Linked DNA regions of Homo sapiens. The protein of the gene in region 2 purifies or fractionates together with the protein of the main gene of each other region. This does not show direct contact. Each region holds a gene or a part of one and is shown on either strand. Other genes may lie near its edges.

Region 1 (5,301 bases), on a different chromosome or scaffold from region 2:
TGCTAGAATATAAGCCCCATGAAGACAAGCCAGGGATGTGTCCCTCTCTCCTCCTCTCCTCCTCTCTCTCCCCCTCCCCCTTCCCCTCCCCCTTCCCCTCCTTCTCCCTGTTTTCTGTACTGTTCTGTTCTGTTCTGTTCTGTTCTGTTCTGTTCTGTTCTGTTCTGTTCTGTTCTGAGTCAGGGTCCAACTCTGTCACCCAGGCTGAAATACAGTAATGCGATCACGGCTCACTGAAGCCCCCGCCTCCCAGTCTCAGGTGATTCTCCCACCTCAGCCTCCTGAGTAACTGAGACTATAGCCGCATCCCACTACGCCCAGCTAATTTTTTAAATTTTTTGTAGAGATGGGGTTTTGCCATGTTGCCAGGATGGTCTCAAACTCCAAGTGATCCACCCACCTTGGCCTCCCAAAGTGCTGGGATTACAGGAGTGAGTCACTGTGCCTGGCTGTGCCTTTCTGATTTATCATGATTTCCCCATCATCTAGCATAATGCCTGGCACATTTTAAGCACCTATTCAGTACGTATGAATTTGTGAGCTGACCCACGGTCTCGGGTGGGAAATGGTGGGATTGAGACTAGAACTCAGACGAGCCTGAATCCACGGCTCTCCTGTTCCATTCTTGCCATCTTCCCAACCACTGGAAGAAAGTCATTTGCATGAAAGATGGACTCCCAGGCATCTGTTCCCTGAACCTGAACTTGCAGGTGAGCACAAGAGAGCTATTATTGGAGGTATCAAGACTGGTAGAAGCTGGGCGCGGTGGCTCATGCCTGTAATCCCAGCACTTTGGGAGGTCGAGGTGGGCGAATAACGAGGTCAGGAAGATCGAGGCCATCCTGGCTAACATGGTGAAACCCTGTCTCTACTAAAAAGACAAAAAATTAGCTGGGCGTGGTGCCGGGTGCCTGTTGTCCCAGCTACTCATGAGGCTGAGGCAGGAGAATGGCATAAACCTGGGAGGCCGAGCTTGCAGTGAGCCCAGATCGCACCACTGTACTCCAGCCTGGGCAACAGAACGAGACTCTGTCTCAAAAAAAAAAAAAAAAAAAGAGGACCTTCAGACCCCAATGGGAATGACGAAGCCATGGTGGTCAAGGTTGGAAGGGCCCTCGGAGGTTCGTGAGTCCCAGGTTTCTCATTGCGTGTGTATCAGGTGCTCTGTGTTTACATGCATGGGGGCTTGGCAGCAGACTACATCAATCACAAAGTCAGAAAAGGACTCTTCTTCACTCCTTCAATAACTTGAAGAAGAAAATCTCGGCCAGGCGCGGTGGCTCACACCTGTAATCCCAGCACTTTGGGAAGCCGAGGCAGACAGATCACAAGGTCAGGAGTTCGAGACCAGACTGACCAACATGGTGAAACCCTGTCTCTACTAAAGATACAAAAATTAGCTGGGCATGGTGGTGGGCACCTGTAATCCCAGGTACTCAGGAGGCTGAGGCAGGAGAATTGCTTGAACCCAGGAGACGGAGGTTGCAGTGAGCTGAGATTGAGCCACTGAACTCTAGCCTGGCGACAGAGAGAGACTCCGTCTCAAATGAAAAAAAAAGAAAGAAAAAAAAGGATTCTTCTTCACTCCTTCAATAACTTGAAGAAGAAAATCTTGAGACCAGGTGCAGTGTCTCACACCTGTAATCCCTGCAGTTACAGAGGTTGAGGTGGGAGGATCACCTGAGCCCAGGAATTTGAGACCAGCCCTGGCAACATAGTGAGATCCCATCTTTACAAGAAAATTAGCTGGCCATGGTGGCATGTGCCTGTAGTCCCTGCTACTCAGGAGGCCAAGGTGGGAAGATCATTTGAGCCTGGGAGGTCGAGGCTACAGTGAGCCATGTACTATAGGTTGGACCACTGCACTCCAGCCTGTGCTACAGAGCAAGACCCTATCTCCAAAAAAAAAAAAAAAAAAAAAAAAGAGAGAGAGAAAGAAAATCTCTAGATGATGCTGGTGTATTCTTAACATCTCTCTAACATCTGCTAATCTCCCTTTTTGACAAAGAGACAGCAGGATGCAAGCTCAGAGCCTTCCATAGAAAACACTCTCGAGGCCAGGCGCGGTGGCTCACGCCTGTAATCCCAACACTTTGGGAGGCTGAGGCGGGTGGATCACCTGAGGTCAGGAGTTTAAGACCAGCCTGGCCAATATGGCGAAACCCCGTTTCTACTAAAAATACAAAAATTAGCTGGGCATGGTGGCAGGCACCTGTAATCCCAATACTTGGGAGGCTGAGGCGGGAGGATCGCTTGAACCTAGGAGGCAGAGATTGCAGTGAGCTGAGATCACACCATTGCCATTGCACTCTAGCCCAGGCGACAGAGTGAGACTCTGTCTCAAAAAAAAGAAAAAGAAAAAGAAAACACTCTCAAGTTAGGGTGTAACGACATTTCTGTTTTGTTTTTTCTTTTTCTACCTTTCTTCTCTTTTTTGTTTTGTTTTGTTTTGTTTTTTGAGACAGTTTCATTCTGTTGCCCAGGCTGGAGTGCAATGGCGCGATCTCGGCTCACCACAATCTCCGCCTCCCAGGTTCAAGTGATTCTCCTGCCTCAGCCTCCCAAGTAGCTGGGATTACAGGCATGCACCACCATGCCCAGCTAATTTTCACCATGTTGGCCAGGCTGGTTTCAAACTCCCGACCTCGGGTGATCCACCCACCTCGGCCTCCCAAAGTGCTGGGATTACAGGCGTGAGCCACCGTGCCCAGCCTCTACCTTTCTTCTTAACCTCTTCTTCTTAACAGGAAGTAATTCTAGTTTTCTACTTGTGTTGATGATGTGAAGTTTTGTTTCAATAGAAGGGGAAAAAGATGTTGATTTAAAGAATAACAAAGTAAGTAACAGATTAGATAAGGCTATGGTAACAATCGTATCATATAAGCAGGAGGAAAGTGACTGAAGATTGTGAAACATTCACATGGTTCAACCACTTCCCTGCAATGTGGGAAAACCGAGGCTCTCGACAGGAGGAAGTCCAGCATCTGGGTTCAACTGCGAGTTAGCGGACACCACAGGCCCAGTCCTTCACCCATGCCCCCATCACAAACCACCCCAACCACGTGGAAAACTGGCCCACCTGGTATCTTGCTCCATGGGCCTCCTCAGGGTGGAAGCAGTTTTGACAGCGGTTCTGGGTAAGTATGTTGGCCTCAAAGTGTTCACACAGGGCATCCCCAGGCACCTCCTCCATATTGGGTGAGTCAGGCCAGGGCAGTTCCTATGATCCAATGGCTGACCGTCTATGTGAGGCCTGGCAAAAATGAGGGGGAGGCAAAGACCAGATGACTGGCTGGCCACTCACCTGAACCCCAGCCCCAGTTGCCCCAGTTTCCAGACAAGGACCAAGGAAATAAGGTTACTCATCCATTCCTTTGGGTTCCTGTTCTCCATCCATTCCTGTTCATTTATTCACTCAACAAACACTCACTAAGCACCTACTAAGCACCAGGCACTCTGCCAGCATTTGATGTGCGATTTCTAGTCCTTACTGCAGTGTTGCTGAAAGTGCACGCCAAGGACTCTGCATTACACCCTCCTGGGCTGTTCATAAAAATGCAGATACCAGGCCAGGCACAGTGGCTGATGCCTGTAATCCCAGCACTTTGGGAGGCCGAGGTGGGCCGATCACTTGAGGTCAGGAGTTCGAGACCAGCCTGGCCAATATGGTAAAACCCTGTCTCTACTAAAAATACAAAAATCAGCCAAGTGTGATGGCACGTGCCTGTAATCCCAGCTACTTGGGAGCCTGAGGCAGGAGAATGGCTTGAACCCAGGAGGCGGAGGTTGCAGTGAGCCAAGATTGCGCCATTGCACTCCAGCCTGGGCGACAGAGTGAGACTTCATCTCAAAACAAAAAACAAAAAAATGCAGATTCCAGCTGGGCCCATTGCGGGCGGCGGATCATTTGAGCCCAAGAGTTCAAGACCATCCTGGGCAACTGGCGAAACTCCGTCTCTACAAAAAATACAAAAATTAGCTGGGCAAGGTGGTGCAGGCCTGTGGTCCCTGCTACTCAGGAGGCTGAAGTTGGGAGGATCACCTGAGTCTGGGAGGTCGAGGCTGCAGTGAGCCATGACTGTGCCACTGCACTGAGAAAAAAAAAAAGCAGATTTCAGCTGGGTAAGATGGTGTGCACCTGCAGTCCAAGCTACTCGGGAGGCAGAGGTGGGAGGATCTCTTGAGCCCAGGAGTTTGAGGTGGTAGTGTGCTATAACTGCACCTGTGAATAGTTACAGCACTCCAGCCTAGGCAACATAGCAAGACCACATCTCAAAAAAAAAAAAAAAAAATCTAGATTCCCCTTTCTCTCTCCCAATTCACACAGTTAGAATCTCCAAGAGACTGAGGTCTGGGGCTGTGCATGTTAAAGAAGTGATTCCAGCCGAGGGCGGTGGCTCACGCCTGTAATCCCAGCACTTTGGGAGGCTGAGGCAGGCAGATCACTTGAGGCCAGGAGTTCAAGACCAGCCTGGCCAACATGGTGAAACCCCGCCTCTACTAAATACAAAAATTAGCTGGGCGTGGTAGCACGCACCTGTAGTCCCAGCTACTTGGGAGGCTGAGGCACGAGAATCGCTTGAACCTGGGAGGCAGAGGTAGCAGTGAGCGGAGAGCACGCCACTTCACTCCAGACTGAGCAACAGAGCGAGACTCCATCTCAAAATAAATAAATAAATAAATAAATAAATGAAAATGAAAATAAAGAAGCGATTCCTGGCCAGGCGCAGTGGCTCACGCCTATAATCCCAGCACTTTGGGAGGCCGAGGCGGGCAGATCACCTGAGGTCAGGAGTTCGAGACCAGCCTGGCCAATATTGCCAAACCCTGTCTCTACTAAAAATACAAAATTAGCCAGGCATGGTGGTATGCACCTGTAGTCCCAGTTACTCGGGAGGCTGAGGCAGGAGAATCACTTGAACCCAGGAGGCGGAGGTTGCAGTGAGCCAAGATTGCACCACTGTACTCCAGCCTGGGTGATAAGAGTGAGACTCTGTCTTAAAAAAAAAAAGTGATTCCCCAGGTGATTCTAGTGCGCCCCAAAGTTTGAGTGTCCTTGTCTTATAGCTGCATTGTAGATCAAATTAATGCCAATTTTAGATCAGGCAACTAAGGCTCAGAGAGGTTCCTTCGGTCACTGAAGGTCGCAGTGGCTGATTCAAATCCAGGGCTGTGTGTGTCCCTGCTCTCTCGGAGGTGGAAGTGAGGAGCACTGGATCATACTGCCAACTCGCACAGGTCCCTTGGGAAGCACAGCGAGGGAGGCAAAAAGCTGGCCAGGTATTTTCAGAGTTGAGGACG
Region 2 (3,500 bases):
GAGATGTGAGGGGGGGCCTCTGGGCAGGGGCAATGAGGTTCTTGTGACCTATTGCCATTCCCTCAGGCCCACAGTATGGCAGCCTGGAGCGGGCCTGGGGTGCCATAATGACAGAGGCAGACAAGGTGAGCGAGCTGCACCAGGAGGTGAAGAACAATCTGCTGAATGAGGACCTGGAGAAGGTGAAGAACTGGCAGAAGGACGCCTATCACAAGCAGATCATGGGTGGCTTCAAGGAGACGAAGGAGGCTGAAGATGGCTTCCGCAAGGCCCAGAAGCCTTGGGCCAAGAAGATGAAGGAGGTGCTCAGTGGGTGCTGCCACGGGCGGGGTGGGGTGGGCCCGTCTGATCAGAGGGTGCTGATCCCAGGGAGGGCATCTATGGATGGGTGGGCTGGGCACTGCCCTCTGGGATTGTGCCCACAGGGGAGCAGCACTGCCTTCCAGGAAAAAATATTCACAGATGGGTAGGCAGTGCCCATTGGGTAAGGAGACCCATGGGCAAAAAGGGGCACTGTCCCCAGGAAAGATACCAGCAGGGGCAGAAGAGCACATTGGCCCCTGGGTCCCCAGATGGGGCGGGCACTGCACTGCCTGACAGGAGGGTATCTGCAGGGGAGCAGGCAGTGCCAAGCAGAGACGCAGCCACAAATGGAGGAGCGCTGCTCCCGAACACCTGGAGCCAGGGCCTGCATCCCTTCTGGCTCTTAAGAGTGTGGGCTCACAGGTCCCAGGGAGTGGGCAGGGGAGGAGTTAATGGGTGACCATGTTTGCTGCTGGTCACAAATGAAAACCCTACTCCCTATTCCCCCCTCCCCACAGCTGGAGGCAGCCAAGAAGGCCTACCATTTGGCTTGCAAAGAGGAAAAGCTGGCCATGACACGGGAGATGAACAGCAAGACGGAGCAATCGGTCACACCTGAGCAGCAAAAGAAGCTGCAGGACAAAGTGGACAAGTGCAAGCAGGATGTGCAGAAGGTGCTGGCGGGCAGGGATGGCAGTAGGGGGTCTGGGGGCCCCTTGCAGAGGGTGGTGGCTGGGAGCTGCAGGCCTGGCTAGGTGTCACCCTCTCTCCACTCTGGTGCCCACAGACACAGGAGAAGTATGAGAAAGTGCTGGAAGATGTGGGCAAGACCACACCCCAGTACATGGAGAACATGGAGCAGGTGTTTGAGCAATGCCAGCAATTTGAGGAAAAGCGGCTGGTCTTCCTCAAGGAGGTGCTGCTGGACATCAAACGGCACCTCAACCTGGCTGAGAACAGCAGGTACCTGGGCATGGCAGGCACCGAGGGCACAGGCACAGCCAGCAGATGGTGTGACTGGCATGCAGGGCATCCCAGCCCTCCATCACAGTGACGGGAAGGGGAGGCAGAGCTGCAGGGGTCAAGAAGGATGAGGCTTCAAACACAGGGGCTGTTGAGTGCAAGCTGACGCACACTGGGTACTCTAGAAACACATGCTGGATGATGGGTGAATGGCTAAGGTGGGAGGGAAAAGGAGTCCACCGAGCATGCCCGGAGCTTATTCTTGCAAAGCCCACATGATTCCTGGCTGGGCAGCATGCCCAGCACCCTGCTTCCCTGAGTGGACTCTGGCCTCTCACCAAGGTTGAGGAGGGGCCATGTTGAATCTGTGCCCTCCACCTCCCCCATCTCCCTGAGCACAGCTACATCCATGTGTACCGTGAGCTGGAGCAGGCCATCCGGGGGGCTGATGCCCAGGAAGACCTCAGATGGTTCCGCAGCACCAGTGGCCCCGGCATGCCCATGAACTGGCCCCAGTTTGAGGTGAGGATATGTGGGGATGGGAAGGGGAGCCTGAAGAGGCTGAAAGGTGCCTCAGGGCATAGTCCCCCAGCCTGACTGCTCCACTGGCCCCACCAGGAGTGGAACCCAGACCTTCCTCACACCACCACCAAGAAGGAGAAACAGCCTAAGAAGGCAGAGGGAGTGGCGCTGACCAATGCCACTGGGGCGGTAGAGTCCACATCCCAGGCTGGGGACCGCGGCAGGTGAGTGCCTCCTGTGGAGCTTCCTGGGGCCAAGAGGGACCCACACTCTGGGGCAGCTGAGTTTTGCTTCAGAAGACAAGAAATGGTCTAGATCATAGCAACTATGTCTCCTCTCTAAAAGATAGTGGTAGTTCATCACTCTAAAGCAGCCGTCCCCAATCTTTTTGGGACCAGGGACCAGTTTTGTGGAAGACAATTTTTCCACGGATGGGAGCGGGGTGGTTTTCGGATGAAACTGTTCCACCTCAGATCATCAGGCGTTAGATTCTCCTAAGGAACGTGCAACCTGGATCCCTCGCATGCGCAGTTCACAATAGGGGGGTTGCGCTCCTATGAGAATCTAACGCCGCGGCTGATCTAACAGGAGGTGCAGCTCAGGCGATAATGCTCCCTCGCCTGTCACTCACCTCCTGCTGTGCTGCCTGGTTCCTAACAGGCCACGGACTGTCTGCAGCCCCAGGGTTGGGGACCCCGGTCCAGATCACAGGAACCAAGCCTCCTCTCTAAAAGATAGTGGTAGCATATCCTTCTAGAGCACCTACTGTGTGTGGCACGGTTCTATGCACTTTCCATATGTTAACTCATTCATGCTCAAGTGCGTAAATATTACCATTTTACAGATGGAGAAACTGAAACCCAGACAGGTTAAGTGACTTGCCCAAGATCACATTGCTAGTTAGTAAACCTCAGAGCCAGATATGTTGCCCAGGAGGTCTGACTCCAGGATCCTTGCTCTTAAACATTAGGTGGTACTCCTCCTCCCGGATGAAGGCTCAGATGTGCCCTGGGGTCCCCTTCAATGCCCTCTCCCTCGAGGGCTGAATAATAACGCAAATGGTCCTGCATTTAAACATCGGTTTAAAGAGCTCATGAGGGTCACCCCTCCTATGTGGCCAATCCTTGCTCTAGCCTTGGTAGAATTCGGGATCAGGGCTCTGATTAGGAGGAGCGGTTAGCCCTCGGGATGCGGTACGGGGAGACATTGAAGCTGGCTCCTTCCTCCGCGTCTCAGTGTTAGCAGCTACGACAGAGGCCAGCCCTACGCCACCGAGTGGTCAGACGACGAGAGTGGGAACCCCTTTGGGGGCAGTGAGACCAACGGGGGCGCCAACCCCTTTGAGGACGACTCCAAGGGAGTGCGCGTGCGGGCACTCTACGACTATGACGGCCAGGAGCAGGACGAGCTCAGCTTTAAGGCCGGTAGGACGGCTGGGCGGGGCAGTGCCTGAGAGAGGCTTGGGCCTGGATTGGGTGTGTGGTGGTGCAGGGGCGGTGCCTGAGAGAGAAGCTTGGGTCTGGATTGGGTGTGTGGTGGTGCAGGGGCGGTGCCTGAGAGAGAAGCTTGGGTCTGGATTGGGTGTGTGGTGGGGCAGGGGTGGTGCCTGAAAGAGAGGCTTGGGCCTGCATTGGGTGTGTGGTGGGGTAGAGGCAGGATCTGAAGACGGGTTGCGAGGATTTGCAGGGAACTAAATGGGGCGTGGCCTGGGT
Region 3 (5,301 bases), on a different chromosome or scaffold from region 2:
TTGAGCCCAGGAGGTCAAGGCTGCGGTGAGCTAAGATTGCACCACTGCACTCCAGCCTAAGGGACAGAGCGAGATCCTGTCTCAGAAAAAAAGAGAAACGTGAACATTTTCTCAAAATAGAAAAATGATATCAATTCCAAATAACAATTATAATTAGCTACATACAGGAGTCTCAAGGTCACTGTTGACCTGTGAGAGAAACAGAAAAGTATAATGTGTAGAAGTGCAGTGCTGAGCAGCCAGTACCAGGGTCTCATCCATCTCTGCCTCTCATTAACTGTCCCTTTCCAAGGGGCCATTTCTCTAGGCCTCAGCCTCATCTGTGAAAAGAATTCCCTCCCACCACCGCCACCCCATTCCCACCACTAACAGTCGCCTTGTACTGTGGCAGATTGCGACCATATCTAACCTGGCTAAAACTCTTAAGTCCCCGAGGGCAGGGCTTGTCATTCATCCAGAGATCTTCTAATACCCAATTATCCCATCAACACATACTGGTAATGGGAAACCTGACAATGACTACGGCCAGCCCTGACCTTATTCGAGGACAGTCCAGCAGCAAAGTGCCTATGGCAGAGAAGGTGCTCAAGTCAATTACAATGACCCATCTGAAGAGCTTCTGTCAGGTCAGGCAGGCAGCCTGTTACAGGCAGATCCACAGCCCTTTTTGCTTGGTTTTTGACTGAAATGGCTTGAGGACGTCACCCAAGGTGAATGCTGATATTAGCAGTTCTGAGTACAGCTGACGTGGCAGTCCCTTCCCCCATGCACAATACTTCCCACAGAAGCATGTTTTCCTCCAGAAGAGCAGGCTTCCAGCTGAGGGTCAGTTCCTCAACTAAAAGTGTGGCCCTGTCTTCTTCAGGTCCCCATCAAGACAGCCACATCAGGCTGGGGGGCCAAGAAGAAAAAGGCAAAGTGAAGAGCCAGTTGGGGATATTTCCCCCACTGGGCTGAGCAGCCAAAGGCCTACCTGTGAGCCTAGAAGTACTGTCAGGAGGTGCCTGGGACACCTACTGTGAGACTAGGAGTACTGTCGGGGGGCCGGGACATCTGTGAGCCTAGGAGTACTGTCAGGGGTTGCCTGGGACACCTACTGTGAGCCTAGGAGTATTGTCAAGTGGGGCGCAGGACATCTCCTGTGAGACTACAAGAATTGTCAGGTGGGGCCTGGGACATCTCCATTCCTTCCTGTTAACAGCAAAACTGGGAAACTGCTGCCACCAAAAGCTGAAGACAGAACAGACCCAACTCCTTGGGGTGAGAAACTTAAGACTCATCCTTAGAATTCATCAGGTCTCTGTGAAATAGTCATATTACAAAACCACCTTTTCATTGCATATAAATTGCATTTTATTACATCCAATAGAAATAGATCCTAAAAATGGTCAATAGTATGTTGACTGGTTGACATAGCAACCGATGACTAGTTTTCAAATTGAGAGTATAAAACCCACAATTATTACTTTTCACTCATGTATGATAGGTTTTCGAACTGTGGGTGGCAGTGGGGTGGGGAATAGCGGCACATGATAGAAAAATAGAGCCCTTGTAATTGTATTCTCAAACTTTGAGAGGTGGTCATTGTGGGTTCTTAACCTGGGTATTCCAAGGAGGTTTATAAATGGCCTTAGGGCAAGGAGTTCCATGAAACTCATGAGACTGATAAAAATTATGAATTTATAGCATCATTGTACATACATCAGTTTCTCCAAGGAAGAATGGTCCAAAACCCCCATCAGATTTGCAAGTGTCCATCTATGCCTCACGAATATTTAAGAATCACTGCTGGATGGTTTTCTCTGGTTTGCAAATGGATTCCTCTTAGAGAAAAAAAAAAAAAAAGAAAAAAAAATGGAAAACACTTTACTCTGTGCTGCCCTAGTGCAAAAGGAGGCTTCTCTGGCCTTTTATTCTCCATCAGTTAACACTGCCTGTTTTCTGAGTGTCTATCACTTCAGCCAGCAAAAGGAACTGGACAGACTTAGTGAAAGTGAAAAGAGGTAGATGCTGCTTGTTAGTTTTAGAGTTATTATCTCTTTGAAAAGAACAGCTAAATTAAGCAAACTGATTGCAAAAACGTGGAACCAACCCAAATACCCATCAATCAATGAGTGGATAAAGAAACTGTGGTGTGTGTATATATATACATATATATATGTGTGTATATATATATATACACACACATATATATGTGTATATATATACACATACATATATACACATATATATACACATATATATACACATATATATACACATATATATACACATATATATACACATATATATACACATATATATACATATATATATACACATATATATATATATACACATATATATATATATATGATGGATACTACTTAGCCATAAAAAGGAGTGAACTAATAGCATTCACAGTGACCTGGATGAGATTGGAGATTATTATTCTAAGTGAAGTAACTCAGGAATGGAAAGCCAAACATCGTACATTCCTACCCATAAGTAGGAGCTAAGCTATGAGGATGCAAAGGCATAAGAATGACAAAATGGACTTTGGGGACTCAGGAGGAAAGGGTGGGAAGGGAGTGAGGGATAAAAGACTACAAATAGGATGCAGCGTATACTGCTCAGGTGATGGGTACACCAAAATCTCACAAATCACCACTAAAGAACTTACTCATGTAACCAAACACCCAGTTCCCCAATAACCCATGGAAATAAAAAATTTAATAAATAAATTAATTAAGCAAATTGAACTTATCTAGATCATAAGAAAACAGAATATCTTATCGATAACAATACCTAAAATGGATATGAAAAATTAAGTTGAGCTTTAAAAGGTAATATAATAAATAAGTGTAAGGGAAACTGGTTCCTTGATAATAAGCTTTGGTGTTCACTAAATGTCAATTTTTTTCTTTCCTTTTTTTTTTTTTTTTGAGACAGTGTCTCGCTGTCACCCAGGCTGGAGTGCAGTGGTGTGATCTTGGCTCACTGCAATATAAATATACTTTTTTTTTTTAAAGTAGATATGGGGTTTTGTGCCATGTTGCCCAGACTGGTCTTGAACTCCTGAGCTCAAGTGGTCTGCCCTCCTCAGCCTCTCAAAGGGCTTGGATTACAGGCAGCAGCCACTGTGCCTGGCCTAAATGTCAATTTAAGAAAATAAATAAATAAATAAGGAAAGAAAAAAAAAGAGCCCATGTATTTCCTTCCACTGTACAGTAAGCTTCTTGGACTACAACCACCTTTTCTCACAACTAGATTCTGCTTATTTAGAAGCAGGGATTAGCAAATCATGAAGAACTTCCCAAAGGTGTCCCCTTGCCCCGGTGTGACATATGGTCATGGAATTATACGGCAAGACTAATTTCCAGTGAATGCCATTCACTACAGAAGGGACTGGCCTAGATCGCAAGTAAGGTTAGATGAGGTGACACTGATCACAAAAACCCAGCTGGTGAATCAATCAAGACACAATGCACAAACTTCCGCAAAGAGTGGATAAGGAGGAAAAGTGTTTCTTTCACATCTTCTGAACTTCGACTTCGCACTTTGTTGCTGATTTCTGCCTTTTGATTATTGTTTAATTCTCCTCTAGACTAGGACAACTCTATATCTGATGACCGCCATGAGGGGCTTAATGACCTCTGAGGCAGGAGTAGTTGAGAGATGTTAATCTCCTACTGTGTGGCAGATACTCTACTGGACACATAGAATATAAAATTGAAGAACAAGGCATGCTTCCTTCAGTTAAACAGAAGAAGGTACTGCTTTGTTTTTAAACACATGGTTAAGTCAGTAAAGTTACTTTTTATTTGTATTTATTTATTTTTTTAGACAGGGTCTCACTCTGTTGCCCATGCTGGAGTGTAGTGGTAAGATTTTGGCTCACTGCAACCCTCGATCTCATGGGTTGAGGTGATCCTCCCACCTCAGCCTCCTGAGTAGCTGGGACTACAGGAATGCACCACCATGCCCAACTAATTTTTGTATTTTTTTAGAGACAAAGTTTCGCCATGTTTCCCAAGCTGGTCTCTTAACTCCTGGGCTTAAGTGATCTTCCTGCCTCAGCTTCTCAAAGTGCTAGAATTACAGGTGTGAACCACCATGCCTGGCCAAAAGTTACTTTTTAAAATACTGATTAGATTTGCTGATATCTCTCAGTGGGCCTGATGTCAAAGACGAGGCTAATTTTTTTGTTCATTGTAGATGGCTGGAGCTAGAAAATTGACATTTGATGAACAATTTTTATCTTTTGTTGAACCACCTGTACTTTTCAGCTCATGACTAACTACAAAGGGAAGAAATATCTTTAAACTGGGCATGGTGGCTCACACCTGTAATCCCAGCACTTTGGGAGGCCAAGGCAGGTGGATCACTTGAGGTCAGGAGTTCGAGACCAGCCTGGCCAGCCATGGCCAACATGAAACCCCATCTCTACTAAAAATACAAAAATCAGCCGGGCATGGTGGCATGTACCTGCAGTCCCAGCTACTCAGGAGGCTGAGGCAGGAGAATTGATTGAACTTGAGAGGCGGAGGTTGCAGTGAGCCGAGATCACCCTATTGCACTCCCGCGTGGGCAACAGAGTGAGACTCTGTGTCTAAAAAAAAAAAAAAAAAAAAAAAATCTGTTTAAATTGTGCAACATTTTACTAATAATCATATAATTCTATGTTTATGATTTTCAGCTTAAAGTTTAACCCTATCTGGATCCATAATATACTGATTTCTTTCAATATCATTTTATTACAGAGGATACAATAAGAAATGTAAATGGTGTACTTCAGTATTCTAGTAATGTTTTAAAGGATATCATCAGTATCGTATACCTAATATAGTTCACTGGGAAAAAAAATCTAGACTCCTTTTCCCTATCACCATATAAAATGCATCCAAGAGGCCTCTGATATATTTAGCTTTGTTTTGTCAACTCCTATACTCATCATGCAAGGTAGAAAAAATTCAGTTGGCTTCTACTGAAACAATGCATTAGTGCTATAATAGTGAATGTTTTTTGTGCCATGAATTAAGGACTGTACGATGTGGCAATTCTTAGAGTATATCTAGGGACCTTTCTACATATTAGTTGCTCCAACATCTTCAGATTAAGGTTCTCATTTTCCTTCCATCATGAAAAATACATCCCTCCTCCCCCTCCAAAAAAATCCTCATAGATAAAAGCACAAAGTCAGGGCAATGATGATGTACACTCTGCAACAATCCAACAAAATACACTGTTTGTTCTTAGAAACGCAGTGTGGACCGGGGGCAGTGGCTCATGCCTGTAATCCCAGCACTTCAAGAGGCTGAA
Region 4 (5,301 bases), on a different chromosome or scaffold from region 2:
CCCATTTACTAAGCACCCACCATATAACCCAGTATTTACAAACTCTGCCCTTGCCACAGATCCTGCGGTTGCTGAGGACTTTGGAAGCATCTTCCTGCATCCTCATCAGGACCCAAAGCCATGGGTACTATTATTATAACCCCCCAGTTTTCAGATGAGGGGCATAGATGCTTCAGCTCTAAGTAACTTGCTCCATTAGCATGGAAAATGGAGCTAGAATGGAAACTCAAATCTGGGCTCGCCACCATTCCAATTCCCTTGCCTGGGCGCACTGAAATGAAAAGTGGGACTGTGTCAGATTTCTAGGTCAGAGCAGGTCCCCAAGCAGAAGCCATGCAAATGCCCTGACCCACCCCTCCCGCGGCCCTGAGGCTCCTGAGCCTCAAGTGGCTCACCCAGTCCTGATAGTGAGGCTCTGGGTATGGCATCAGGAGACCCAGGAGACATGGCCCCTTTCTCTGGCTCAGCTGGGGCTCCCTGCAGCTGCTCCCCCTTCCCTTGGCCCCTTTATCTATGGGAAGGACCACGAGGAGGTCAGAAACCTTGTGTGGAAAGTGCGCCACGGTTGCTTGTGGGTCTGTTAAATCCAGTGCCTCAGAACCTACAGAGATCAAGGACAAAGCTATTTCCTGATTCTGAATTCCTCTTTCAGAGGAAAAAATTGTGCTTCCTGTTCAGAGCTGTGCCAAAGGTGTGGCTGCTGCCTAGGCCAGTAGCCCATGTTGGGGATGTGGGGCACCCCGAGGCTGAGGAGAGGTGAAGATCTGGGCGATGCCCTGCACAACAGCCTGCACCGTTCACACACACGCCCCACCACACACTCAAGAACTAAGGAGTCCAAGTTGGGGCAAGGCCCTGTTCCTGATAGCAAAGGTTAACACTTATTAGAGACAAGGTGGCCAAACAGGACTTTGGAAAAAATCGTGCTGGACTTCCTGTGACCTAGGCAGGTCGCTGAACCTCTGCTGAACCTCTCCAGGTCTCGGCGGCTCCATCTGCTAATTGAAGACAATCCCTCACCTGCATAATGTGGGGGAAAGGCAGGGAGGGCAGGTGCAGACAGCCCCAGCAGGTCCCTCTTCCCAGGGCTAGGAACTAGAAGTCCAGGAAACAGCTGTGATTTATTCTGCAGCACTGCAATATACCAATCTCCCTACTACCCATCTGCCCCGGGGCCAAACAAAAACACTAAGGAGTTTACAAAGCAAAGTGGCCTTCCCAAGGACAGGGAGGATGAGTCTGGAGCCAGGGTGGAGTCTGGAGCCAGGGTGGACTCTGGCACGGGAGCCTCATGGAGCTGAAATCTGTATCACGGCCCCATTGCTGAGCAGCTCAGTGACCTTGGGCAGGCCGCTCAACCACTCTGAAAACTCAGGGTCCCCTCCTCCGAGGGAGGCCTTGCTGCCACCAGCCCTGCTGGCCACCCTTGCCTGCTGAGGTCTGTGTGAAATCACGGGCTATGACACAATATAGTAGGTAGAGGTTCAAAGGATCCGGCAGGCCCATCCACTCAGAGTCTCGCTGCAAAGCAGCTCTGACACCAGGGCCACCTCTGGCACAGCATGCAACCGCCAAGCTGCGCCCAAGGGGAAGGAGCCAGAAGGGTTACAGGCTCCAGGCAAAAACCAGGCTGTGGTTTCATGTGAACTAGGATGACCCTGACTGAGAAAACCAGTGAGTGGTTTGGAAGATTTCAGTTCCAGCTTCCAGAGACAAAATGTCAGTGAATCAACCCCCTAGGTGCTCTTGCCCCCAACGGAAGTGACAATGCCTTGAGAGCTCTGGGTAGGGCATGGGGGCTCCATTCCAGAGCAGCTGTAAGACTGCCTCAATTGCTAAAACTGGAAAAAGCACAAAATCTAGGGCAGAGTTTTCGAACCTGCCCCAAATGGCCCCAGAGATGACCCAAGGCCCTCCCCCGCCACCCCGCCCCAGGATGGGAGGCCAAGCTCCAGGCTTTGGCTGCCTTGCCCAGAGCTGCACTGCTTTTGATGAAAGCTTGAAAACCATCCACCTGGTCCAACGGTGTCATTCAGCTGAGAAAGAGTGGCTTGGGGAATGAGTTTCCCAGGATAAGAGAAGAGCCCGTTTTCTTAGGTCAGATGCTTCCAAATTAGCACCCAATGATCCTCCATGTCCAGTAGTAGGATGTCTTCCCCTGTGCCTCGCTGCCACACTCTCTCCCTCTTTCAAGACTAAGTGGCAGCTTGGGAACAATTTAAACATTCTGAGTTAAATTTCTTTATTTCTGCTAAAGAACATGAGGTTGCCCAAAGAAAGGCTACTTCCCCCAGAGGCGGCAGCCAGCGTGCTTCCTGGAACATCCCTCACCACATGGGGGGCTCAGGAACTCCCCATTCCATCAGCACACTACTCTGCAAAGAGAAGGCAGGCACCCGCTTTACAGGTGGGAGACATAAGTCACCTTCCTGGGTCACCCTGCACATTTGTGTCAGGAAGAGAACATAGGCCTTGGACTATAGTCCTTCTGTGTGGCAAGGGAAAGAGAAATCAGAGGAAAAGATCAGGTAACAGGCTAGAACCCAGGGAAAAAAGCTAGGGTGCAATTACATAATACTGGAACATTGCACGTCCAGTTTAGAGGGGGATACGCCAGCCTGCCCACCACGGCCCTCACCGGCTCCCCACAGGACAGGCCTGAGGCCCTGGCAAGGACCTTCCTCCCTTCTGCCCCTAAACTCTGCCTCTGGGCAGGGAGTGGGGATCAGAGCCCAGAAGAGAACTTCTAACACACCAAAAGAAGCCATCAAAGATGTGATAGTCAAAGAAAGAAACTTCAAAAGTTGGCAATAGACACCAAGGGCCAAGGAGGAGTGGGGACACAAACAGGAGTAACAAGTCCCAGAGAAGCAGCACTCCAGGAACCTTCCAACCCAAGGCCCAAGGGAGGGACGGAGGAAACTCACCACCACCTGTGGCACCCCAGGGCTGCCACCAGGACTGCGGGCAGCGGCCACACCACCAGGCTACTAAGCAGTGGGAAAGTGGCTCGTCTGAGCTGAAATGTGCTGTAACGTAAAATGCGCACGTCATAACTTTTTTGCATGGTGTAATGACAGTATTTTGGATATATCTGGTTAAATAAAACATAATTAAAATTAATTTCACCTCTTTTTTTTTTTTTTTTTTTTTGAGACGGAGTCTCACTCTATTGCCCAGGCTGGAGTGCAGTGGCGCAATCTCAGCTCACTGCAAGCTCCGCCTCCCGGGTTCACACCATTCTCCTGCCTCAGCCTCCTGAGTAGCTGGGACTACAGGCGCCCACCACCACGCCCGATTAATTTTTTGTATTTTTAGTAGAGACAGGGTTTCACCGTGGTCTCGATCTCCTGACCTCGTGATCCACCCGCCTCGGCCTCCCAAAGTGCTGGGATTGCAGGCGTGAGCCACTGTGCCCGGCCCCGACTAATTTATTGTATTTTTAGTAGAGACGGGTTTCACTGTGTTAGCCAGGATGGTCTTGATCTCCTGACCTCGTGATCCGCCCGTCTCGGCCTCCCAAAGTGCTGAAATTACAGGCGTGAGCCACTGCACCCGGCCCCTCTTTTTACTTTTTTAACGTAGCCGCTGGAAAATTTAAAATTTCCTATGTGGCTTCCATTACAGTTCTAGAGGACAGGGCTGGTCTGAGGGGTGGCACACTGTGCCCCTGTGCCAAATTGGCCCACCAGCTGCTTTTCTAAGACCCCAAAACCAAGAATGGCTTTTACATTTTTAAGTGGCTATATCCTACACAACCTCCTCGATTTTGCCTGTTGGCCTGCAAAACCTAAAATATACAAGATTTCTTTTGAGTAAAAGGCTCCGGGATTTGATGAAAGCTTGAAAACCACCGACCTGGTCCAACTGTGTCATTCAGGTGGGAAAGAGTGGCTTGGGGAAGGAGTTCCCCAGGATAAAAGAAGAGTCCTTTATAAAAAAAATTGCCAAGCCTTGGTCTAGACTCTAGAAACAATCAGATATTCACTCCAGGTGACACAAGGAGCAGAAGGCAGGTGTGTGTGTGTGAGAGAGCGATTCTTGTACAGACAGTCCCTGACTTATAATTTTGACTTTGTGATAGGTCTGATGGGTTTTACCTGGATGTACCCCCACCATAAGTCCCATCATAAGTCAAGAAGCATTTGGAAGTGAACAATTCAGGGGCATTTAGTACATTTCACAAGGCTGTGCAACCAGCACTTTTATCTAGTTCCAAAACATTTCATCACCCCCAAAATAGAACCCCAGTCTCATTAGCAGTCATTCCACATTGCCCACCCAACCCTCAGGCTCTGGCAACAACCGATCTGCTTTCTGTTTCTACAGATTTACCTGTTTTGGACATTTTACATAAATGGAATCACACAGTATGTGACACATGACCTTTCATGTCTGCCTCTTAGCGCAATGTTTTCTAGGTTCGTCCATGTTGTGGCATGTCTCAGTACTTCGCTCCTTCTTAGAACTGAATGATATTCCATGGTATGGATACACTATGATTTGCTTATCTACGCATTAGTGGATGGACACTTGGATTGTTGCTGCCGTTTGGCTATTGTGAGTAGTGCTGTTATGAACATTTGTATACAAGTATCTGTTTGAATACACCTGTCCTCAATTCTTCTTGGCATATACCTAGAAGTGGGAATGCTGGCTCACGTGGTAGGTTTTATGCTGAACTTTTTGAGAAACCCCCAAACTGTTTCCACAGCAGCTACACCATTTCATTCCCACCAGCAACGTGCAAGAGTTATAACTTCTTCACATCCTCGCCAACATGTTATATTCTTATTTTTTTAATTCTAGCCATCCTGACAGGTATGAAGTGATATCTCACTGTGGTTTCAATTTGGGTTTCGCTGATGACAACGCTGAGCATTTGTCATGGTGCTTGGCCGTCTGAAATGGGATTTTGTGTGTCTGAGATTTTTGACACGCTCCCTGCCAAGCAACACACCAACTCCTGTTACAGATCTTCTACAAGGGGGGGATGCGAAATCTCCCCGTTGTTTCTGAGATACACATTAAGTCAAATCAGGAAGTCCTATGCCTTAGAACTTCTACGAATGTCTACAGGAACAAAGGGAAACCTGATGAAATGCTTCCCTGAGACCTCGTCCTGGCCCACACCCTCTATGTCTGAAATTCCCACCTGAGGCCCCCGCAGCTTTGGAGCCTTGGCAGTGGGGTATGGGCACAGCAAGGGCAGAATCACACCAGGAAGACTAAGAACCCTGGGAGAGATCAAGACCGAGCTCATTTCCAGATGGGAAAACAGGCCTGAGCAATGAAAATGAC

What was found. The genes of interacting proteins can lie anywhere in the genome.
Region 1: the proteins of PACSIN1 (region 2) and TRIOBP purify together in Homo sapiens (co-immunoprecipitation; 3 studies listed by BioGRID and IntAct, with this or other methods). This does not show direct contact.
Region 3: the proteins of PACSIN1 (region 2) and RAI14 purify together in Homo sapiens (co-immunoprecipitation; 3 studies listed by BioGRID and IntAct, with this or other methods). This does not show direct contact.
Region 4: the proteins of PACSIN1 (region 2) and MPRIP purify together in Homo sapiens (co-immunoprecipitation; 3 studies listed by BioGRID and IntAct, with this or other methods). This does not show direct contact.

The regions. Positions count from the first base shown.
Region 1 is NC_000022.11:37,699,258-37,704,558, reverse strand, and holds part of TRIOBP (TRIO and F-actin-binding protein), read right to left. Parts: intron 3,254-5,301; 5' UTR 3,194-3,253; coding exon 3,080-3,193; intron 1-3,079.
Region 2 is NC_000006.12:34,528,576-34,532,075, forward strand, and holds part of PACSIN1 (protein kinase C and casein kinase substrate in neurons protein 1), read left to right. Parts: intron 1-66; coding exon 67-302; intron 303-821; coding exon 822-977; intron 978-1,090; coding exon 1,091-1,266; intron 1,267-1,667; coding exon 1,668-1,788; intron 1,789-1,884; coding exon 1,885-2,012; intron 2,013-3,024; coding exon 3,025-3,212; intron 3,213-3,500. UniProt on the Homo sapiens protein: Plays a role in the reorganization of the microtubule cytoskeleton via its interaction with MAPT; this decreases microtubule stability and inhibits MAPT-induced microtubule polymerization.
Region 3 is NC_000005.10:34,662,038-34,667,338, reverse strand, and holds part of RAI14 (ankycorbin), read right to left. Parts: intron 1-5,301. UniProt on the Homo sapiens protein: Plays a role in actin regulation at the ectoplasmic specialization, a type of cell junction specific to testis. Important for establishment of sperm polarity and normal spermatid adhesion.
Region 4 is NC_000017.11:17,048,167-17,053,467, reverse strand, and holds part of MPRIP (myosin phosphatase Rho-interacting protein), read right to left. Parts: intron 1-5,301. UniProt on the Homo sapiens protein: Targets myosin phosphatase to the actin cytoskeleton. Required for the regulation of the actin cytoskeleton by RhoA and ROCK1.